3 separate regions of the Homo sapiens genome follow, and all the other regions are linked to region 2. Evidence: fine-mapped expression QTL. A gene starts in region 2. Each other region holds a variant in brackets. All regions are shown on one strand. Distances are from middle to middle.

Region 1 (8,189 bases), 37 kb after region 2:
TTAAGGAAATGCTGTAGTTGGTTTGATCTGTCCAGACAACTAAAACTTTCTCCACATCAGCAACAAGCTTGTTTTGTTTTCTTATCACTTGTGTGTTAACTCAAGCAGCACTTTTAATTTCCTTCAAGAATTTTTCCTTTACATTCACACCTATGTTAATGGTTGGGTGCAAGAGGATTAACTTTGGCCTATCTCACCTTTCTATATGCCTTCCTCATAAGCTTAATCATTTATAACTTTTGACTTAAGAGAGAGATGTGTGGCTCTTCTTTTCACTTAAAATTTAGAGGCCATTGTATGGTTATTAATTGGCCTAATTTCAATGTTGTTGTATCTCAGAAAATAGAGAAGCCCAAGGAGATGGAGAGAGACAGGGGTAAGGATGGTTGGTAGAGCAGTCAGAACACACATATTTATCAATTAAATTTGTTATCTTATATAGACACAGTTTATGGTATGCCAAAACAATAACAATGTTAATATCAAAGGTCACCGATCACAGATCACTATGACAAATATAATAATCATAAAGGTCACTGATCACAGATCACTATGACAAATATAATTAATTGGCCTAATTTCAATGTTGTTGTATATTAGAAAATAGAGAAGCCCAAGGAGATGGAGAGAGACAAGGGTAAGTGTGGTTGGTAGAGCAGTCAGAACGCACATATTTATCAATTAAATTTGTTGTCTTATATAGACACAGTTTATGGTATGCCAAAACAATAACAATGTTAATATCGAAGGTCACCAATCACAGATCACTATGACAAATATAATAATCATAAAGGTCACTGATCACAGATCACTATGACAAATATAATAATCATAAAAAAGTTTGAAATATTGTGAGAATTACTAAAAGGTGACACGGAGACATGAAGTGAGCACGTGATGTTGAAGAAACAGCTTTGCTTGATGCAGTGTTATTATAAACCTTCACTTTGTAAAAAACCTCATTATCTGTGAGGTGCAATATAGCAAAGCACAATAAAACGAGGTATGCTTGTACACTGTAAGCAAGTGTGATTTATTCCACAAATGCAAGGCTGGTTTTATCTTATACAATTAATGTCATATGCCATATCAGTAAAATAGAAAAACACACATATGATCATCTCAATTGATGTAGACAAAGCATTTGGTGAAAATTCTTCACTGTTTTATGATAAAAACACTCAAAATACTCAAAATAGATGGGATCTTTCTCAACCTGATAAGGAGCATCTAATAAAAATCCACACCTAACACACCTATTGGTGAAAGACTCAATGCTTTCATGAGGAATAAGACGGTGAGATATACTCTCATTATATCTATTCAACCTTGTATTAGAAATTCTAACCAGGGCAGTTCGGCAGTAAAGAAAACCCAAAAGGCATTCAGAGGGTCCAGTTTTATTATTCTGTGTATGGATGGCCAATGATCCCAGCACCATTATTGAATAGGGACTCCTTACCCCATTGCTTATTTTTGTTGACTTTGTTGAATACCAGTTGGTTGTGGGTGTGCAGATTTATTTCTGAATAAACTATAGAAATAAAACAATATCTATTCACGTTCTTTAAAAAAAATTCAACTTTCATTTTAGATTCAGGGGGCATATGTACAGTTTTGTTATTTGGGTGTATTTTATAATGCTGAGGTTTGGGGTATGATTGATCCCATCACCCAGTTAGTACCCAAGAGGTAGTTTTTAAAACTTTCTTCCCTCCTGCCTTCCCCCAGTAGCATTCATCAATGTCTATTTTCTTATCTTTATGTGCATATGTACCCAACGTTTTGCTCCCACTTATTATAACCCCACTGGCATTTGGTTTTCTGTTTCTGCATTAATTCACCTAGGACAATGGCCTCCAGCTGCATCCATATTGCTGCAAAGGACATGATTTCACTCTTTTTTATGGCTGTGTAGTATTCCATGGTATGCATATATATATATATATATATATATATATATATATATATATATATATATGTATATATATATATATATCACATTTTCTTTACCCAATTCACCATTGATGGGCACCTGGATTTATCCCATGTCTTTGCTATTGTGAATAGTGCTGTGATGAACATGTAAATGCATGTCTTTTTGGTAAAATGATTTATTTTCCTTTGGGTGTATATGCAGTAATGGGATTGCTGGGTCAAGTGGTAGTTTTATTTTTAGTTCTTTAGAAATTTCCAGATGCTTTCCATAGGGACTGAGCTAATTTACTTTTCCACCAGCAGTGTATAAGTGTTCCTTTTGTCCGCATTCTCACCAATATCTATTTTTTGACTTTTTAGTAATAGCCATTCTGACTGGTATGAGATGTTATCTCATTTGGTTTTGGTTTACATTTTCCTGACAATTAGTGATATTAAGCATTTTTCATGTTTGTTGGCTGCTTGTATGTCTTCTTTTTAAGAAGTGACTGTTCATGTCATTTGCCCACTTTTTAATTTGGTTATTTGTTTTTTGCTTGTTGAATTGTTTAAGTTACTTATAGATTCTGAGTATTTGTCCTTTGTAGGACGTATAGTTTGCAAATATTTTCTCCCATTCTGCAGGTTGTCTGTTTAGTTTAATAGTTTCTTTTTTTTGCTGTGCAGAAAGTCTTTAGTTTAATTAGGTCCCATTTGTCAATTTTTGTTTTTGTTGCAATTGCTTTTGAGGGTTCGGTTTTATTATTCTGTATATGGATGGCCACTTATCCCAGCACCATTACTGAATGGGGAATCCTTACCCAATTGCTTATTTTTGTTGACTTTGTTGAATATAAGTTGGTTTTGGGTGTGCAGATGTATTTCCAAATTCTCTATTTGGTTCCACTGATCTATGTGCCTGTTTTTGCACCAGTACCAGCATGGTACTGGTTAGTTACTATACCCTTGTAGTATACTTTGAAGTCAGGTAATGTGGATGCTTCTGGCTTTATTCCTTTTGATTAAGATTGCTTTTGCTATTTGGGTTCTTTTTTGATTCCATATGAATTTTAGAAATACTTTTTCTAATTGTGCTAAAAATGATAATTGGTGGTTTGATAGAAATAGCATTGAATCTGTAGCTTGCTTTGCGCAGTATGGCCATTTTAATGATTTTGATTCTTCTAATCCATGAGTATAAAATGTTTTTCCATTTGTTTGTGTCATATATGATTTCTTTAAGCAATATTTTGTATTAACTAGTTTTCCTTGTAGAGATCTTTCACCTCCTTGGTTAGATGTATTT[C/T]TAGGTATTTTATTACTTTTGTGGCTATTGTAAATGCAATTGCATTCTTGATTTGACTCTCAGCTTGAATGTTATGGTGTATAGAAATGTTTAGTCATAAAAAGAATAAAGTACTGATATATGCTACAACATGAGTGAACTTTTACCACAATATATTGAGTGAAATAAGCCAGTTAACAAGAAATTACATATGATGTGATTCATTTTTAATGAAATGTCTGGAGTAGGAAAATATATGGAGACCCTATGTAGATTAGTGGCTGCCTAAGGTTGGGGAGAATGGGAAGTTGGGGATGGGAGTGATAGCCAAGGGGTACAGAGTTGCTTTTTGAGGTGATGAAAATGTTTTTGAATGGACTGTGTTAATAATTGCACATATCAGTGAATATACTAAAAACTATTGAGTTGTATGCTTAAGAAAAGAATCAATTAAGATAATACTTACATAGACAGCTAAAGATTTTCCCAGGTTTACATGAAAATAAATATATATGTTTTCAGAAAAAAGTTCCTGAACTCAAATATCTGCACCCCAAAAGGAAGTCACTTAATGTATATTGTTTGAAAAAACAATTTAAAAATTATGGTACAAAAGACATATATTCTGGTGGGGCACGGTGGCTAATGACTGTAATTCCAGCATTTTGGGAGGCTGAAGTGGGTAGATCACTTGAGGTCAGGAGTTTGAGACCAGCCTGGCCAATATGATGAAACACCGTCTCCACTAAAAATACAAAAATTAGCAGGGCGTGGTGGTGGGAGCCTGTAGTCCCAGCTACTTGGGAGGCTGAGTTGGGAGGATTGCTTGTACCTGGGAGGCAGAGGTTGCAGTGAGCTGAGACTGCACCACTGCACTCCAGCCTGGGTAACAGAGCAAGATTCTGTCTCAAAAAACAAACAAACAAGCAAAAAACAAAAAAAAAAATTCAAACAAAAACATATATTCTACATTTATTTTCTGCTTTAACTTGAAAACATGCACACGAATAAGATATAATATTTTACTCTTTAGAACATGATTAAACCAAGAAACTTTTCAAGTAAAAAAATTATTATTTTCTCCCCTTTTTTCTATTTTTCATGTTGGAGTGCCCTAGGGCTCAGTTCTTGTTTCTCTTTTCGTCTTTGTTGTGTTCTTTCCACTGGAGATCTCAACAAGTCTCCTGGCTTTAAATATCTTCATGTCTAAGATTCTCAACTGAATCCGTCCAAATGTTCAAGACGAAACTATGGCAGCCCTTATTACGTTTTCTTTTTTTCATCACACCTATCACCTTCTAACATATTATATTATTTCCCTGTTTGTCCTGTTTATTGTTATTGCTTTTATCCTGCTATTAGAATGTAAGCTCCCTAAGGGTAATAAATTTTCATCTGTTTGTTCACTGATGCATCCTACATACATAGAACATGCCTGACATGCAGCAAATTATATATATATATATCTACACACACACACACACACACACACACACATATATGTATATGTATAGATTGATTGATTGAGGTGGAGTGGGGAGATGGAAAAAGAAGGGCAGAAGACGGAGTGATGGGGATTAGGGAGAGAGTTACAAAGGGATCTAGGTTGTGACTGGAACTTGGAAATTACAATCATAATCTTCCCCCACCAATCCTCGAGTAAAAAAACCCAAAACTTTTTGTGAGTTTTTGTGAAAATCAGTCAAGGGGCTGAGTTTATTCACAACTGTTTCTTTGGGTGTTGTGGAGAAAATTTGGGACAGTATGCACCAATACAGAAACTAAACTATGAGAATGCTAGTTCTGGGAGTTTACCAAATCACATGGGGGCTTTATGGGCTTTCATGTCATCTGTACTTATATCTCTGTGGATGTAAGGTTTTCCGTGGAAAAGCAACACCAGGTGACTTCTAAGTCACATGTTCACTCTGCTTGCAAACAAATTACAAAAAAAAAAAAAAAAAAAAAGCTTAGAAAAAGGCCTAGAATGAAAAATGATATTAACAGTGGCTACCTTGGGAATAGAAGTTAAAAAAAGTGTAATAGCTTAATGCCCATAATTATAGCTTCCAATCTGGGGCTGAGAAAAATGGCCTCTCATACCACTCTGACCCTATTCTACTGAAAGAAAAAATAGGAGGACCCCTTTATCTGAAATATGAAATACAATTTCAATTTCTTCTCTTACCAGTCCCTGAAAGCAGATTTTCCCCTGGGGAAAGAGGAGAATCCACCTGTTTTTTCTCAGCGGGTTTTGATAAGCAGAGTGGTATCTTTGTGCCAGTTACTGTTCTTTTTTCTTGAGATGGAGACTTGCTCTGTCACTCAGGCTGGAGAGCAGTGGCAGGATCTCAGCTCACGGCAACCTTTGCCTCCCAGGTTCAAGCGATTCTCGTGCCTCAGCCTCCTGAGTAGCTGGGATTACAGACGTGCGCCATCACACCCAGCTAATTTTTGTATTTTTAGTAGAGACGGGGCTTTGCCATGTTGACCAGGCTGGTCTCGAACACGCGACTTCAGCTGATCCACCTGCCTTTGGCTTCCCAAAGGGCTGAGATTATAGGCATGAGCCACCCTGTGTGGCCCCAGGTACTGTTCTTTATGCTTACATACTAATTTAATCCTCACAGCAACCCTTTGAGGCAGTTACTATTATTAACCACATTTTATTTTTTAAATGAGGAGAGTGAGGCACAGAGTAAAGTAATTTGCTCAGGGTTACACAGGCACTAGTAAGGCAGTCAGAATTGGAAAATTCAGGCTATCTGCCTCCAGAGCTGTGATCCTAATCACAAGGGGGGCTGTGAGAGACAGGAGGGAAGTTCTAAAAGAAAAAGGACCATCCTTCGTTAGATGTGTTGTCATGATATCTGGTTTGTGTTCTAATTGATATTTCCTGACCTGGTTTTGCTGAAGGCAATTCTCTTTTCACACATTATTTTGTCTTATCCATTCTCCTTAACTAGACACTAATTTTCTAATCTTATCCTAATTACATTTCTTCGCTTCCCAATGCTTTGATTCTCAGGGTCGAAGTTTTGTTTGGTGGCTAGGTTTAGTGGCTCATGTCTATAATCCCTGCACTTTCGGAGACCAAGGCAGGAGTATGCCTTGAGGCCAGGAGTCCAAAACCAGCCTGGGAAACATAGCAAGACCCTTATCTCTGCAAAAAATGAAAAAACCAGGTGTGGTGGCACACACCTGCAGTCCCAGCTATTTGGGAGGCAGAGGCTGGAGGATCACTTGAGCCCAGGAGCTCCAGGTTGCATTGAGCTGTGATCACCCACTGCACACCAGCCTGGGTGACAGAGTAAGGCCTTGTCTTAAGTTTTATTTGGTTATATATGCTCGTTGAGATAGCTTGAAATGATTTATTTCATGGAAACTCTCACGTCTGTCTCTGTATACAATATTATTGCTCACACTGTATCCTCCTCCAACATTCATGCACAGAGGATGCACTGGAGGATATCTTTACAAAAATTAAATAATTTTTTTTCATTTAAACATTTGGAAAAGTTTTTTTTCCCCAAAAATGTTGGCCCAGCAATAATTTCTTTTTTTGTTTGTTTGCACCAAGTAACATTTTAATCTTTAGAGTTGCTCCGAATATTCTGACATACCTTATATCTCGTAACAGGCTTCTGTATTACACTACTGGATCCTGAGTTGATGAACTGGGGATAGAAATAAGCATTTATAAACACACAATGCCTTATGATAATCCCCTCAATAGCTTCTTTCCCTAGAGCCAGTGGCATTCCTAATATCCAAAGTGGCACTGAATGCATTTCTGAAGAAAGTGATTTTAACATGAAAAACCCCATTCGAAGTCTGTAGTGACCGCTAGTACAATTTCTAAAGCATGGATTCACTATTTCTCTGTTATAGGGATGAAAAATGTTTTAAAGTCTCCGGTCATTAATGAGACCTTTGCATAGGTGATGGGACTTAGGGAGCTCACAATGATTTTATGAGGACAAGTTGTAGGCACTTCACTTGTTTTAATTGTCATTTATTGATCCCTTGAAATGAATTATTAGAAAATATTTCCTAGTGGCTAGTGTGGTGGCTCTCACTTGCAAGAACTACGTTTCTCCCATAATGTTATAAAAAAAATTTCATCAGTGGGAATAGTTTCAGAAAACATTACATCTGAAGATTTATAGGTTGCCTTCCACAAATATCATACCCTAAGTGCTATCATCACCTTCTGGCACTAATTGAAAGGATTGTTGTTTCTGGAATACCAAGAATTAATTTTTTTCCAGTAAATCATATACCTGTCTTCAATCTGCCTGCGGCAATAACAAAAGATGATTCAAACATACTAAGAAGGGGACTGGGGATCCTTCAGCCCAGGAAAATGAAATCCTGTCATGAAGGCAGAATCATCTTAGCTTGTGTTTGTTTGTTTTTACCTCTGACACTTCATTGCTGTGTCACTCTGTGAGAGTCACTTAAGTTCTCCAAGCCTCAGTTTCCCTGTTTGTCAAATGGAGATGAATGATAGCTATCTCATGGGGTTGTCGTGGCAATTAAGGTAAAATGAACTTGGAGTGCCTTTTGGAGATGCCTGATACATAATAGGTATAAAATTGAGTAATTATTATCTATGGCTAAATATCTGTCATATGCTCCTCTTTCATATCTTGGGCTGAGGATTCTTTCTAGATGATTTGCAATAAGTGATTAATTGTATTATTTCAGTTTAAATGATTTGTCTTTATTACATACACTCTTTCCAGAAAGTTCTCGGTGTTTGTAAATGTCTTCCACTTGAGGACTCCCACTATAAGAAAGCCTTAGAGAAAATAATGTCTTTTATCCAGAGCAGAGATCACCAGGCCCTTCTCTGGGTGAAATGACTGTACAGGGATGTCTCAGAGGCCTTTTCACAAAGCAAAAGGGAATGTGTTATACTAAATCTTCTCTCCCTTGAAGCCCTGTTTTTGGTTGAAAAGTACAAAGTTGTGGGTAAGGAGGT
Region 2 (8,189 bases):
AAATCTTGTCACTACTAAAAATACAAAAATTAGCCGGGCGTGGTGGTGCGCGTCTGTAATCCCAGCTACTAGGGAGGCTGAGGCAGGAGAATTGCTTGAATCCGGGAGGGGGAGGTTGCGGTGAGCCGAGATTGCACCACTGCGCTCCAGCTTGGGCGACAGAGTGAGACTCCATCTCAAAAAAAAAAAAAAAAAAAAAAGTAAAAAGAAAATACATCCCTTTTGAGGGGATGTCACCTTGCGGGGTTGTAGCTTGATATTATGGGCTGAATTGTGTCCACACCCTCTATCCCCCACCAAATTTCGTAGATTGAAGCCCTAATCTGTAGTGCTCCAGAATCTGACTGTGTTTGGAGATAGGGTTGTTAAAACCGTCATTCAGGTTAAATGAGGTCATCAGGGGGGACCCTAATCCAAAATGACTGGTGTCCTCATAGGAAGAGGAGACTAGGGCACAGGCATGGAGGAAGGCCGTGGAAAGGCTCAGGGAGAAGACGACCTTCTGCAAGCCAAGGAGAGAGACCTTAGGGGAAAACATCTGCTAACATCTCCATCGCAGACTTTCAGCCGCCAGAACTGTGAGATAACAAATTTCTGTTGTTTAAGCCATCCAACCTGTGGTGCTATACTCTGTTGGGCCGGCCCTACCAAACTAATATGCTTGCGGAACGAGGCCAGGGCTGGCTGGTTTCCTATCCCCCACATTTGGGTGGCTGGGAACCTTCTGCAGGGCACAGCTGCACAACTTGGCAAGGTGGCCTTGAGTGCCTTGGCACCTTCTGGGAGCTCATCGGCAGGAGGACTTGAGTTACTCACCCACAAGCCTCCCCAGAAGGGAAAGCCTCCGTAGAATGAAATAGACAGGTATTCCCCTACGAGAACCGTCGCCATGATGGAGCCGAGGCCGATGTGAGCCAGGCCAATGATGATCTGGATGGCCTGTCAGGAGAGCCACAAGCTGAAGTCTTGTTTCTGAGGCTGGGTCCTGCCTCCCCTATGAGCCTCCTTTTAATTTTAATAAATGTTTTATTTTCATGGTCTAAAAAGTAATATGGGAAATACAAAAATGAAATAAAAACTACCTGTAATCTCCCCTCCGCCTGGAGAAAACAACTGTTTACATTTTGGTGTATTCTCCCATTATTCTTTTCAAATATATACCTTGATAGCACAACATGGCCCCCTGAATTTTATTAACTTAATATTTCATCATGAATGTGTCCTCATGGCATTAAGTATTCTTGGAACATATGTTTTTTCAGGGCTGCTCAGATCCCATTATGGATGGTCTGTGGAGTAGTTGAGACAGAGTTATTGGACAGGTAAGATTATTTCTACTTTTTTCTATTATATGTAACATTGTGATAAACATCCTTCTATGTAAATCTTTGCCTTCATCTCTTATTTCTTTAGGATATTGTTATGTGTTAAATTATGCTCCCCTCCCCCAACCCTCCTCCAAATTCATGTGTTGAAATTCTAATGCTGAGTGCCTCAGAATGTGACTCTATTTGAAAACAGAGTTGTTGCAGATATAATCAGCCAAGATGAGGTCACACTGGAGTAGAGTGGGTCTCCAATCCAATATGATTGGTGTCCTTATAAAAAATGCCATGTGGGCCAGGCACAGTGGCTCACACCTGTAATCTCAGCACTTTGGGAAGCTGAGACGGGCGGATCACAGGTCAGGAGTTCAAGACCAGCCTGGCCAACATGGTGAAACCCTGTCTCTACAAAAATACAAAAACTAGCTCGGCATGATGGTGGGTGCCTGTAATCCCAGCTACTTGGGAGGCTGAGGCGGGAGAATCGCTTAAACCCAGGAGGCAGAGGTTGCAGTGAGCCAAGACTGCGCCACTGCGCTCCAGCCTGGGTGACAGAGTGAGACTCTGTCTCAAAAAAACAAAGTTTTCAACTTTATTATGGTGTGAAAGTGACATGAATTCAGTAGAAACCGTATTTGGAGTACCCATACAATCATTCTGCTTTTCATTTTCAGTCCAGTGTTCAGTAAACTACATTAGATATTCAAGAACACTATTAAATAGGCTTTGTGTTAGATGATTTTGCCCAGCTGTAAGCTAACCTAAGTGTTCTGAACTTGTTTAAGGTAGGCGAGGCTAAGCTATGATGTTTGGTAGGCTACATGTATTAAATGTATTTTTTACTTATGATATTTTTAATTTACGATGGGTACACTGGGACATAATCCCATTGTAAATGAAAGAACATCTGTGTATGTTTGTATATTACACACGTGGTAGCAAATACAAATATATTACTTCCTTAAATTCACATAAATGTAAGCAAATTATACACAGTGTCTGCCCCTTACTTTCTTCCATTAACTCCATATCTTGGGGTGTGTCCCTATCATTACACAAAGAGCTTTCTTGTTCTTTTCATAGCTCCACTACATTTTATTCTTTGGATGCACTGACTTAACCAGTATATTACACTGACTTAACCAATATACTGACTTAACCGGTATTATATTGATGGATATTACAATATTTTTGTTATCACAAACCACGCTGCAATGAATAAGCTCATACATATCACAGTTTTTGTGGGCACAGGCATATCTGGAGGATGAAGTTCCAGCAATGGAATTATTGGATATTTTGTAAATTTGGCAGATACAAATTTCCCTCCCTAAGGGTTGTATCAATTTTTGTTCCCATGAGCACTATCTGAGGGTGGAGCTAGGGTTGGAGCTCGGGCAGTCTGCATCCAAATTCATGCCCATCATTCAGCTACACAGTGAAATGGGCCTTTCTTTGTCCAGCGCAGGACAGCCTCTCAGGGGTTGCGGTGACCATTTATGTTGTTGGTTGCCTAACCTGCTTTGTTTCCTGTTGGGCAAATATTTGATTCGATCTTATTGGATTCTGACTCCACCTTGTGGTCTATTTTGGTCTTGCTGGGACCCCTTTCTTCAGAGGCCACAGGGCTGGGCGTGGATCCTGGCAACAGGATCAACCTTCAAGCGTGCTGCTTTTTTGTTGCTTTTCTTTCTCTTTCCGAAAATGCCTAAATCAGAAAATACAAGGTCTGAGCAGAGGCCGCCTGTGATGTTGTGCAGCTGAGCTTTCTAATAGACCTGTGCTTGGCAAGGCGCGATCAACTCAGCCCCACTTGCGGGATGTAGTGTTTGTGTATTTCCCAGGCCTTCCCTTCCCCCTGCCATCACTCCAGCTGTGCAGTCTGTGGCCTGCAAAGGGAAATCTCACTTACCCCCAAGGTTTTGCCTTCTTTCAGAGCTTTCTGCACAGGCTGCCCATTCACATTCGACACCAAACTAGGTGGGTTCCCAGGAACTAGGTGGACTTGCGGCTGGCTGTTTGGATACAGGGGCACGTGAGACATAATTCCTGGGGTCACAGGATAACCATTGTGGGGTGCCACCACCAACACAGAATTGGCCACCGGAACTGCTGAAGTCATCGAATTCATGCTGCCAAGAAATAAATGCGAGAGAATTTTCCCTCACATATGGACTTGTCCTTTAAAAAGGACTTTTGCTTCTTCTAGCTCATTGGAGCATCTTAACCCTCTACAAGTTTATGAATCCCATGTTACAAATAATAGATATCAGTTATAGGGCACTTAAGAGGTGCTTTACAAATACATTTCCTTTCATCCTCTCACCCGCCCAGTTTTACAGATGAGAAAACTAAGACTCAAAGAGGCTAAAGGCTACCAGAGGGCAAGGGGTCCATCTTTTCCATCTTTGTGTCTCTCATAGTGTTTATTTTTTAATTTTTTTTTGAGACAGAGTCTGGCTCTGTCACCCAGGCTGGAGTGCAGTGGTACGATCTTGGCTCACTGCAACCTCCGCCTCCCAGGTTCAAGCAATTCTCCTGCCTCAGCCTCCTGAGTATCTGGGATTACAGGCCCCCGCCACCACACCCAGCTAATTTTTGTATTTTTAGTAGAGATGGGGTTTCCCCCTGTTGGCCAGGCTGGTCTCGAACTCCTGACCTCAGGCGATCCGCTTGCCTCGGCCTCCCAAAGTGCTGGGATTACAGATGTGAACCACCGCACCCGGCCTCTCATAGTGTTTAGAGTGCTGCTTTGCATATGTTAGTACTGGCTGAAAGCAAAAGTTCAGAACTAGAAAATCTCTTGGACAACATTGAGTTCAATTCTCTCATTTTCTGGAAAAGGAAACAGGGTGAGAGAGTGGACAAGAATCCTCCAAGGTCCCAGGTATGTCAATATTAGTTAAATGGAGATTATCCTTCTCAAGGGAAGCCCCATTGCCAAGGCAGTGTCTGTTCATTGGGTGGCTTCCACTGCTCAATTTTCTAGGCTACTTATACATTCTAATGTGGTTTTAAAAATTCTTTTTCTTTTTGTTTCTCCCATCCCCCTCCATGTCCTATCTTTCTCTTTCTTTCTCTTGGAGCAGACTCAATAAAGCTAGTACAATACACTCTGTCTATCCCTCATCCACACTGGTTCGCCGTAAGTCTCACTTGGTAGAAAAACCTTATCACCAACTCCCAGTTACCAACCACCAGATTAAGCAGACTCACCTTGCTCTGCCAGCAGCCACGTATCTCTTGATCCTATTCCTTTTCTTTGCTGTGGGGACCTTGTTTTTTTTCCTGAGAGAATGAATGTACTGGGGCCAGTTGGGTGGTAGGGTTAGAAGGATCCGAAGTCCTCTATTTCCTGGATGCAGGCCAGGTTACATGCTGCTTAGAGCTCAGTTTCATTCGTATTTATTTCCTGTTTTGGTTAATGAGCCAGTTAAATATGGTTTGATTTGACAAGAGTCTATGGTATAATCTCCATGGAGAAGAAAGGGTTGGGCTGGTTGCTCTGGGAGACACAGAAATGAACTGGGCACCCAGGGTGTGCTGTATTTAGCTGTAACATGAGACAGGATGAAATAAACACCACAGAAGAGAGATAAATGTCCCCACAGGAGAACAGAGGAGAAAATGATTTGTTGGACTTGAAGAGATTAGGGAAGACTTCAAACAGAAGGTGGCATATGAAATCAATAAACTGCAGTCCAGAAAGGGATAGAATCACAGCGAGTGAAATGAGACTTGTAATCAACTTAGATCTATTTTCATCCAAGTCAGAGCCAATAGAAAATCAGAAGCCATCCATGGGAGGGCATTCCACATATCTATGACATACATCGTGTGAATTGCACAGTACAAAAACAGCTGCATGTAATAGTCCATGACAGATTTACCGTTGAAGAAGGTGAACAATGAAGAACAAATGAAGTTGATGGGATGGCTAGAACATTGTAAGATGGTCAAAACAAAAAGAACACCGTTGAGGGTATGGAAAGGGAAAAGTCTTGGGGAAGAGAAGGTAGAGATATGTTGGGAATGGCTCACAGTGAAGGACATTGAATGTAAAAAAGATGAAAAGGTAGCTGGAGTCAGACTTCACTTTTTTGTTGTTGTTTGTATTTTTTAGAGACAGGGTCTTGCTCAGGCTGGAGTGCAGTGATAGTTCACTGCAGCCTCAAACTCCCAGGCTCAAGCAATCCACCTGCCTCAGCCTCCTGAATAGCTGGGACTGCAGGCACGCACTACTGTGGCCAGCTAAATCTTAAAATTTTTTGTAGAGACAGGATTTCACTATGCTGCCCAGGCTGGTCTTCAATTCCTGGCCTCAAATGATTCTCCTGCCTCGGCCTCCCAAAGTGCAGGGATTACAGGAGTGAGCCACCATGCCTAACCCAAATTTTACTTCTTTACCCATTTTTTCTATCAGATTCCTGGACCTTTGTCCCTTAATTTTTAAAGAGTTCTTTACATACTAGGGATTTTAGGTCTTTGTCTTTGGTATATTCTCCAATTTTGACAGTGTCTTTTGATTTTGTTTAGGGTGGTTTTCTGTCAAGAAAAATTTTAAAAATTTTTGTAGTAAAATTTATCAGTCTTATCTTTTATTACCTATGCATTTGAGTCATTGTTTGAAAGCCTTTCCTAACACTAAGATTAAACAGGAATTTAGCTGTGTTTTCTTCTAATACTTGTATTGTTTTACTTTTTACATTTTGATTCTTAATACATGTAAAATGTATTTTTTTGTGAATGCTATGAGATGTGGGTCTAATTTTAAATTTTTCCAAAAGTCTACCTGGCTGCCCCAGGGCAATTTATTAAATAGCTCATCTTCTCTTCAGCGGCATTTGAAATGCCACCTTTGTCACAGCCTAAATTTCTATATGCATTTGGTTCTAATTCTGGTCTTTCTTTTACTTTCTATTGGTCTATTTGTCTATTCATGTGTTATTTCAACAATGTTTTAATTATAGAGGCTTTCCAGTGTACTTCAATGTCCTGTAGGGTTAGTCTCCTGTGTAATTTTTCCTTTTTCATTATATTTTATGGCTATTCTTGCATGTTTGTTTTTCCAAATGAACTTTAGCATTTGTCTAACTCTATAAAGTAACTCAATAGCTTTTTGTAAAGACGAATAACATGAACCAAACTGTATTGACAGAAATAATAAGAGGCATCTGAATGAGGACATATAGGTGGCTAAGCCCTAGTGCACGTGGGACATTCAGGACCAGGTTTAACCAGATATTGTAGAAGATGAAATTTGTCACCTTTTAATTGAGTTTATAGAAGTGGTGCCAACTTTCTAGAAGGGACCGGAGACATACAAGGGAGATTATTATTGTCCAAACCTACTTCAGCAAATGCTGTTGATGCAGCATCTATATCCCCTTGATCCACTCTGGAGGTCTTGAGACAGGGTCTTGCTCAAGCTAGAGTACAGTAACGTGATCATAGCTCACTGCAGCCTCAAACTCTGAGCAAACTCTGCAGCAAATGCTGTATTGATGCTGCATCTTCAGCCAGTCTCCACATCTATGGACAACTCCTTTCTTTTCCGAGGATGCATAGGTATGGGGCAGGCCATAGGTGCTGGGAAGTTAATCCCACAAGAATTTTTCCTATCCAGTGTAACGTGCATATGCTGGATAACTACCCTAGCTTCTCTGTCCCCTAAGAGAAATAATTTTGAAGTGTGTTTCAACTGTCTCTTAGAGAGTCTCCAACAGGATTAAGCACCAGTTCCCTATAACAGAACTCATTCATTAATACATAGTCTATTGACTTTCTTCCTTTTTTTGGTATCACTTTTCCATTTTTTTTCACAGTGAGTCTTGGGTCACTTCCCAAGTAAGCACCCAAATCCTTATGTCAGAGCCTTTTGTATTGCTGTGGTATCAATTGTAATGTCTTCATTTTCAATTCTGATTGTGTTTATTTGAATCTTCTCTCCCTTTTATTAGTCTAGCTAGTGGTTTATCAATTTTATCTTTTCAAGGAACAAACTTTTCATTTCGTTGATCCTTTTTATTCTTTTTTCATTTCTGATTTATTTAGTCCTGCCTTGATCTTTTTTTTTTTCTTCTGCCAATTTCGGGTTTGATTTCTCCTTGTTTCTCTACATCCTTGAGATACAATATTAAGCTGTTAATTTGTCATCTTTCTGCTTTTTTTGATGTAGGCATTTAATGCTATAAATTTCCCTCATAGAACTACTTTCACTGTATCCCACAGGTTTTGGTAAGATGTGTTTTTCTTTTCATTTCATAAAAATTTTAAATTTCTGTCTTAATTTCTTCATTGACCCAGTGATTGTTCAGGAGCATGCTGTTTAGTTTCCATGTATTTGTATACTTTCTGAAATTTCTCTTGGTACTGATTTTTACCTTTATTGCATTGTCATCTGAGAAGATAGTTGACATGATTTCAATTTTTAAAAATTTCTTAAGGCTAGTTTTGTGGCCTAACATGTAGTCTATCTTGGGGAATGGTCCATGTGCTGATAAAAATAATGCATATTCTGGGCCAGGCGCAGTGACTCATGCCTGTAAACCCAGCATTTTGGGAGGCCGAGGAGGGTGGATCATCTGAGGTCAGTAGTTCAAGACCAGCCTGACCAACATGCTGAAACCCCGTCTCTACTAAAAACACAAAAAAGTAGCCGGGCATGGTGGTGCATGCCTGTAGTCCCAGCTACTTGGGAGGCTGAGGCAGGAGAATCACTTGAACCCAGGAAGTGGAGGTTGCAGTGAGCCAAGATTGCACCACTGCACAAATACCTGTTAAATCCATTTGGTCTAAAGTCCAATTTAAGGCCAATGTTTCTTTGTTAATTTTTTCTCCCTATGATCTGTCTAGTGCTGCAAG
Region 3 (8,189 bases), 60 kb before region 2:
TTTCAACCTTACTTTTCTCTTTGGAGGTTTCTGAGTCATTTGTTTACTGGTTTACTCTCTGTGAACTTTATGCGGGAAGGGTGCTTGTCTACCTGGTGCATGGCTGAATCTTTGAGTCATTACTACATATTTGTTAACTGCCTTCTCCCCTCTCCAAAACATGCATGAATGTTCCGGTGCTGGGATACTCACTACCTGCCTCAGGTTGTGCAGAGAGGCTGTTCTTACCCCCAAAACTTTGGGCTCTCCTGTCAGGAATGTCTCCACGGGCCGCAAGTCAGGTGGCTGTGTGGCCCTTGGTGTCTGTGCCCCCAGCGGTGGCTCCTCAAACTGCATAATCCCTGGAGGTTGGCACATGGATGTGGGCAGAATGGCCGGAGGTGGGCAGAGGCCACTGGCGTTGTTTGGCGGGATGACAACAAACACTCCATTGCTGGCGGGAGCTGCAGACATCGTGCTCAGAGAGCCTGGGAAACAAAGGCTTGGGAGATAATAATGGCAATGATGATTGTCACCCATGTGCATAAAGCTTTTTAGTTGATAAGCAACGTGCCTACTTCCCTTGCTTACTGCAGCCCTGCCAGTATGGCCCCAAACGCTCTCATCAAAGCTGGGGAAGCTGAGACTCAGAGAAGCGAAAGATGTCTGAGGTCAAGGGCCTGTAGGTGGGGTAAGACTGAGATTTGAATTCTAGTCTCTCTGGTTTCAGAGGCCTTGCTCTTAATCTCTGAGCTATATTATGTGGAAAGCTCCTTTTGGAGGAGTGTTTATTTAAATGCCCTTCTTTTCCCAGAAAGGGCAAGTGACTTACCTAAGGACACACAGCTAGTGCAAGGTAGAGCTTAGCTAGAGTACCGGTTTCTTCACCCCGAGACCAGGACTCACTGCCACTTCCTGCCTCTCAGCTCTCAACTATTGAGCTAGCGTCAATAATTCCCCTGGGTATGGGAACTTCCCACCTGCTGTGGGAAGCTTTCTATTTGGCCACCCAAGCAATTACCATTGATGTAGCCAAGAAATGTGTAGATATGGAAACTTTATGCAGAGTTTATAGCTTGCAGTGAATGCCAAGAATGAGTTCTTAGACAATTCCAGCTGAGTGGGCCTCGAGCGGGGGTGGCGGGGAGCTCTTCTGAGAGAGTCCACCCCAGCATCTGTCCGCCAAGTATTTATTGAAAGAGCTTGTTAAACCACAAACATCCACTAGATGGCTTTTTGAGGGTCATGAGACACCTATGACCTTATAAAAGCTCTCAAACCACCTTCTTAGGAGGCTGTTTTCAGCGTTCCTTATTACACACCTCAATCCTTGTCCTGTTTTTAGGGTCAAGGAGTTACATTCTCATGCATAAATAACATACACAGAGTGCCTCAGTATTTTTCCATGCCCCAACCTCAAATGCCATGTACATAAGCTTGGATATGTTGCCGTGCACCCTCAACATCTCCCCCTTCTTTAATTTTTAGAGTATGTTGGTTATTTAAAGCGAGGTAAGCTTTTATTGCTTTTTCTTGGTTATAGATGCACTGAGTGACAGCACAGAGCCATTTGTACATACCTAGCAAACAAATACAAAAAAGAATAAGTATATTGGCCATTACCCAAATGTGTATGTTTAACCCAGATAACTAAGTGTTTGGGTTTAACTATTGAAAGCCTTTTTATAATTGTTGAAGGGTATTTGTTTATAATTGCTGTGACCATTTTTTAAGTTGTTTTTTAAATTTACACTTAAGAGTGGGAATTTGAGAAGACTAATGATTGTGATAAGCCCCTTGCAGGTGTGTTTTCACTCTCTCCCAAGCATATTGGGAGCTATTATATGGCAGAGGTGTGACATAGATAGAATTATATTGCCAATTACAATATAAATGTTGATGGGTAATGAATGCCAGCTGCTGATCCCCCAGCCATTCAACTGCAGCTTTAAGAGCCTCCAGGTGAGACAGAGTAGTTTGATTAATATTTACCTGTTTTTGAAATTTATGGGTTACATTATATACCATGTGGTTCACCACTGAAGCTGTGTGAATAGATTTTGTTAGAAAAAGCAGCTGCAGTAGCAGCAGTTGCTAATATAATAATAGCTGAGACTAAAAAAGCAATTAAAGTGGCCAGAAATCTTTTTTTCTGAGTATGAGACAGTGCTTTTCTAAACAGCTGCAGGGTTGAATCTCCTTCCCAGCTCCAGGCTAAATTTACAGGCAGCCAAAATTCTGCACGCCATTTTAAGATCATGACATAGGTTATATTTAACTATGTAACATTTCGATGAGACAGGCATGTAGCATACTAACTACTGGAAGAGACTTTACTACTATAAAAGGATTGATTCTGCTCTATATTAGGAACACTTTGCCCAAACAAAAGTATATAAGAGTGCGTAGTACAAATCACAACTATGTCAGTAACATTATTATGGAAACAGAGGGTATAATTGCCACTGCTAGTAATATACTCATCATGTGAAAGAACCCATTCAAAAAAAGGAAGTTCTAATCTCCAAATTTGGGTATGAGCAGGGCTTAAAGCTTGTTTCCCTTTTAGTTGTAATATTGGTCCTGAAAGCCTGTACTCTGACCAGGTGATAGACTTACTGGGGACTCCCAGATCCAATAGTCTGATTTGCAGACATAAGATAACCATGGGGACTCCAATCAAGTAAGGTGCCATTATCAAACAGAGGCCCTTGACATGGCGCAGGCTGTCTGGATGGAGACCACTGAATGGCCTCAAACTTATATCCCCAGTCCCTACTCAGACGGCATATAGGAAGATCAGGCACTTGTGTAGCTTCATTAGAGACCTCAGTAAGATTAGTGGTAATAGCAGAAATAAAGGTCAAGTTTGCAAGCTTAGCATCCCTTTTACACTGATAGTAAAGATACTCCTGAAGAATAAGAGTAACACACTTAGCATGTGCTATTGTGGAAAAACAAAGAGGGGGATTACTAGACAATACAACCAAGGAGTTATTAAGTTTAATCCATCCCAAATTTTCCACTGAAGGGTAAGACAGGGGCATCCATCGACCTCTCGTCCAAGAAGTATCATTAGATGACAAAGGCAGGTCAGCATCCCACCATGAAATAACATTAAAAACAGGGGGATTTAGAACATGACTCCAGTAAACATGTTCTTGAGGTGATCCCACTTGGCAAAGGACAAGAATTACCAGCCACCCCAACATCTATGTCGTCTTACTTTCTCAGAAGTTTTCCCAATTACCCCCAGATACATAAGAAACTGATTCTCTGCAGTTACAGAGGCTTCTATGCCTGCAAGCCGGATAGTTGCCTGTTGATCCAATTTCTTTAGCTGTCCCCAGGTAATGTCAGGTGCCTTCTGAGTCATCACCGTCATTGTCAGTCGATTCTCCAATGACAGGTCCTGTTCTCGAGAAGAGGGCCCGATATTCCCCCTTTTTTGTTTATTAAGATATACTTTACGAGTTTGATGAGCTTGTTTAATAATGGCCTGACTGGTTGAGTTACAGAGAATCCCAGTCTTGGGTTGTATGTTGATCTTATTGCCAAAGTTGCAATGCATAGCCAAAGTGAGCACTAAGATAGCAGGGGCCATTATCAGTTTTACAGTTTGTGGAAGGCCTGGAGTCATAATAGATTCAAACAAATGAGCAACTGCATCTTTAGTTTTTTCTCCGGCATGGGGATAGCATGTATTAGGTCTATATAAGTGTCCACAGTAACATGGAGAGATTTAAAACGTCCAAAGGGTGGATACTGAGTAACATCAGTTTGCCAGATAGCATTAGGCACCAGACCTCGTGGGTTGGCACCAAGTCCTAAGGAAAAAGGGGAAAGAGAATGCCATTGGCAATCAGGATAAGTTTTAATAATCATGTGAGCTTGAGCAAGTGTTAAATGAAACTGTTGTTTAAGACTGCAGGCGTTCTGATGGAAAAAAAGCATGATCAGCTTGAATTCGCAAAAAAGCAGGAGAGTCTGCAAACCACATCTGTGTGTGTACCAGAGCATTAGCTCGAGCGTTCCCTTCTGATAAGGGACCAGGTAGCCCAGAATGAGAGTGAATATGTGTGATGTAAAGAGGGTGATGATCGAAGGGGGCTTGCCCCTCCACACCTGTGGGTATTTCTCGTCAGGTGGAGACAAGAGACTGAGAAAAGAAATAAGACACAAAGTACAGAGAAAGAACGGTGGGCCCAGGGGTCCGGCACACTCAGCATGCGAGGAACTGCACCGGCGCCGGTCTCCGAGTTCCCTCAGGGTTTATTGATTACTATTTTCACTATCTTGGCATGGGGGGTGCGGCAGAAGAACAGGGTGAACAGGGTGATGGTGGGGAGAAGGTCAGCAGGAAAACATGTGAGTAAGGGAATCTGC[A/G]TCATAAATAAGTTCAAGGGAAGGTACTGTGCCCAGATGTGCACGTAGGCTAGATTTATGTTTCTCTTTACCCAAACATCTCAGTTAGTAAAGAGTAACAGAGCAGTATTGCTGCCAGCATATCTCGCCTCCAGCCACAGGGCAGTTTTCTCCTATCTCAGAATAGAACGAATAGTCGGCTTTACACCGAGACATTCCATTCCCAGGGACATGTGGGAAACAGAGGACTTCCTCTTATCTCAACCACAAAGAGGCCTTCCTCTTTTACTAATCCTCCTCAGCACAGACCCTTTACGGGTGTCGGGCTAGGGGATGGTAAGGTCTTTCCAATCCCACGAGGCCATATCTCGGGCTGTCTCAGTCGGGGGAAACCTTGGACAACACCCAGGCTTTCTTGGGCAGAGGTCCCTGCGGCTTTCCGCAGTGCATCGTGTCCCTGGTTAATAGAGAATGGAGAATGGCGATGACTTTTACCAAGCATACTGTCTGCAAACATATAGTTAACAAGGCACATCCTGCATACCCCTAAATCCCTTAAACCTTGATTCAGTACAGCACATGTTTCTGTGAGCACAGGGTTGGGGCTAAAGTTACAGGTTAACAGCGTCTCAAAGCATAACAATTTTTCTTTGTACAGATCAAAATGGAGTTTCTTTTGTCTTCCTTTTCTACATAGGCACAGTAACAGTCTGATCTCTCTTTCTTTTCCCCACAATGATGGTCACAGAGGAGCTCTTACGCTGCAAGAAACAAAGCTAGTAGGGGTTCATTAGTAATGCCCTTCACATGTGCAAGATCTAAATGAGTAATACTACACACCGCATAAGCGGAATCACTAACTATGTTTATGTCTTGGTGAGGAAAAGTTTGTAAGGCCAATATCAGGGCACCTAACTCTGCCTGTTGCGTGGTTTTAAAATGTTCCTGGATTTTGTGCTGCCATTTTTGCATGGCCTATTGCCACACTGTAGCTGCTCTTCCAGTTTTTCCTAAACCATCTGTAAAGACAGTAGTGGCATGAAGCAAGGGCTCAGAAACAACAATAGATACAAATTTAACAGGCACAGTTTGTAAAAAGTTCAGGAGCTTAGAGGCTGGTAAATGAAAGCTGATATTACCAATAAAGTCAGCTATTGCGATTTGCCAATCAAGAGCACAAGCTAGAAGAGTATGAAATTGTTTTTTGCTTAAAGGTAGGAAAACAGTAGCAGGGTTATTTTTGCCATATGCCTGGTTAGGTCACAATTACAATATGTGGTTCCGGTCATTATTGCAGCAAAAGTTTGAGTCAGATGAGTTGTAGTGCCTATATTTTGGCATGCTTTAATAAACACACTGATTTCAGTGGCAGTGGCTTAGACTGGAGTTATTGCTGTCTGACAATCCTTATTTGCTTTTTCAAAAGCCAATTGTAACATAAGAAGTTTGGTAGCCTTAGGATGGGATACCTGTTTTTCAATTGCAGCTTGCAGTCGGTTGATAAATTTAATGTATGTTTCTGTGGCACCTTGTTTAACTGTTATAAAGGAACCCTGGGATTGTCTTACGGGATTTTTTTTTTTTATGTTTGTATTGCTAGCTGTGAGCATTGAGGAAATAGATGGCCACCTGCTTGACCCTGAGTCTGAGCTGAAGCAAAAGGCCCTGTTCCCAATAGCATATCAAGTTGTATCGGGATATTATTATCCAAATTTTGCAAGGACTGCTGCATGGCTAAATCACTGTACTCACTCCACCACACAGTATATTCTGCAGCTGAAACCAAAACATTTACCAAAGTTTTCCAATCATGTGGAGTCATCTTATAGCCATTTCCCAGAGCCTCAATCACCTCCTTCGTAAACGGTGAATGTACACTGTTTTCACGGATACTTTTCTTTAACTCTTTAAAGACAGTAAAAGGCAAACTCTCATGCCATCTCCTGTTGCTTTGAACAATAACAGGGAATGCGCCAAAAAGCGCCTCAGAGTCTCCCTTCCTAAGTCCCTCTTGGAGGCACCCCTCTACTAAGAAAGTTTGACGAGGAGTTGGCGTTGAGGACACGGCCACCCGATCATATAGATATTCACTGACTGGAGGTCTTATCCAAGAACCATCTCTTGGGCGGCCTCCAGACTCCTCAAGGGGGATGGGAGGCGCCATTGCCTGAACGGGGCCAACGAATACAGGTCCCTTTAAGGGTGGAGGAAAAGAGGGCAATGGCTTTTCTATAGGGGGAGGAAAAGGCTCCGGTCCGTCCTCATGATCACTAGAAAAAAATATCCTCCTTATGCCCTACAGAAGGGAATGAAGTAGAGAGAGGACCCCCCGCCCGCCTCCCGCTGTCCTGGTTGGCTCCTGTTCTTCCTTCTCCTTTAAACCTCCTGAATTCCCTTCAGGCAAAGACGGGCGGTCTGACCCACTGCAATCTGGCAGATAAAGAGGATACAACACCGAGTGTACCGGCGCCCAGGTGGTCAAAACAATAACCTCAGTAAAATGACCTTGCTCACATCCTGTTTTCAGGCAGTGACCTACCTGCTCCATAACTCAAGTCTAAGGTTCCTTGATCAGGAAACCAAGGGCATTCCTGCCGAATTAAGATCATAGCGTTGTGTAGAGCTCCAGGCTCTGCAGTGCACTGGTTAGCCTTAAGTAGCTGTCGCACTGTTTTTAAAAAACACTTTCTGTTCTTTGGTCATTTCTTGACCCATGATAATCCAACCCCTGATATTTTACGCGTGGGTCCCATCCTCCTGACGGGAGTCAGGACTGTCCCTTACCGGGATTCCCCGAAAATTGATGAGTTTTCCTCCTTCAAGCGTAACTTCAAGGCGATCACGTCGGGGTCACCACTTGCAGAGCTTATAGCTTGCAGTGAACGCCAAGAATGAGTTCTTAGACAATTTCAGCTGAAGGGGGCTGGGAGAGGGGGTGGGGGCAGCTCTTCTGAGAGCCCGCCCTTGTGAGAGCCTGCCCTAGCATCTGTCCGCCAAGTATTTATTGAAAGGGATTGTTAAACCACAAACATCCACTAGATGGCTTTTTGAGGTGGGGTCATGAGACACCTGCGGCCTTGCAAAAGCTCTCAAACCACATTCTTAGGAGGCTGTTTTCAGCGTTCCTTATGACACACTTCACTCCTTGTCCTGTTTTTAGGGCCAAGGAGTTACATTCTTATGCACAAATAACATACACACAGTGCCTCCGTATTTTTCCATGCCCTGACCTCAAATGCCACGTACATAAGCTTGGATATGTTGCCATGTACCCCAACACTTTAGGTGTGGCTGGCCTGGGCAAACACTTTGGGAAAAAACACCCATTACCCAGGTGTCAGGAGATGAGCTTACCAGGAAACAACAGAGTGCTGAATCTGCCAGATTATACAATGAGATCGAAAACAGTCATCCTTCTTGTTGGCATGGGTGTGTGAGGAGTTTACCAGTTCAGTGTAAGGGTCTGAGATAGAAGCCAGGGTTTGAATTCTGGCTCCTCTTGTTACTGTGAGGCACGGGAGCGAGAGGGTCACCCTCTGCCTCAGTTTCCTTACCTGTGAAATAGGGATAATACCAATCTCATAGAGTTTGGTGGGAAACACACACCAACTTGATAAAATCCATCCCTTACAACGTGACTTGTTATAACACGATGCGGCTGAGATGTTTTGTTAAATATAACATATCTAAGCCAGTGACTTACAATGGACCGTGGATGTGCATTGCTTCCCAGTGCTCTGAGACCTACTATGCATGCTCGGGAGAGCACCAGCTTGCAGATTGTGCAGCAGATTCTCTGTGGTTCTGCAAGCGCTCTTGGCTGATAAGGGCTCAGCCTCACTGTT

Which allele goes with the higher level. Alleles are on the strand shown, and positions count from the first base shown. SD is a standard deviation of normalised expression in the study named.
For the expression in pancreas of the gene that starts at base 4,705 in region 2, T is the high allele of the variant in region 1 and C is the other (large effect, 1.9 SD a copy in GTEx).
With allele A in place of G in region 3, the expression in ovary of the gene that starts at base 4,705 in region 2 is lower (moderate effect, 0.61 SD a copy in GTEx).

The links. PIP is the estimated chance that this variant, and not a neighbour inherited with it, causes the effect.
Region 1: its variant is fine-mapped to the expression of MS4A8 in pancreas (GTEx, PIP 0.99).
Region 3: its variant is fine-mapped to the expression of MS4A8 in ovary (GTEx, PIP above 0.99).

The regions. Positions count from the first base shown.
Region 1 is chr11:60,659,412-60,667,600 of GRCh38, reverse strand. It overlaps LINC00301 (long intergenic non-protein coding RNA 301), which reads right to left. Exons shown (of 7, transcript NR_026946.1): 6 at 6,826-6,879. All of the region lies in intron 4 of LOC105369321 (a long non-coding RNA gene), which reads left to right. Among named protein-coding and RNA genes, the nearest start is that of MS4A8, 36 kb to the left of the region's middle. The variant C/T (reference allele first, on the strand shown) is at 3,224.
Region 2 is chr11:60,696,128-60,704,316 of GRCh38, reverse strand. It overlaps MS4A8 (membrane spanning 4-domains A8), which reads right to left and starts at 4,705. Exons shown (of 7, transcript NM_031457.2): 1 at 4,542-4,705; 2 at 3,238-3,457; 3 at 817-939. The coding sequence starts at 3,456. It overlaps LOC105369321 (a long non-coding RNA gene), which reads left to right and starts at 388. Exons shown (of 6, transcript XR_001748240.2): 1 at 388-578; 2 at 1,263-1,322. RefSeq lists enhancers at 2,660-3,159, 3,160-3,661.
Region 3 is chr11:60,755,998-60,764,186 of GRCh38, reverse strand. MS4A15 (membrane spanning 4-domains A15) reads right to left here and starts at 7,320. Exons shown (of 7, transcript NM_001098835.2): 1 at 7,129-7,320; 2 at 229-481. The coding sequence starts at 453. RefSeq lists enhancers at 845-934, 965-1,024. The variant A/G (reference allele first, on the strand shown) is at 4,366.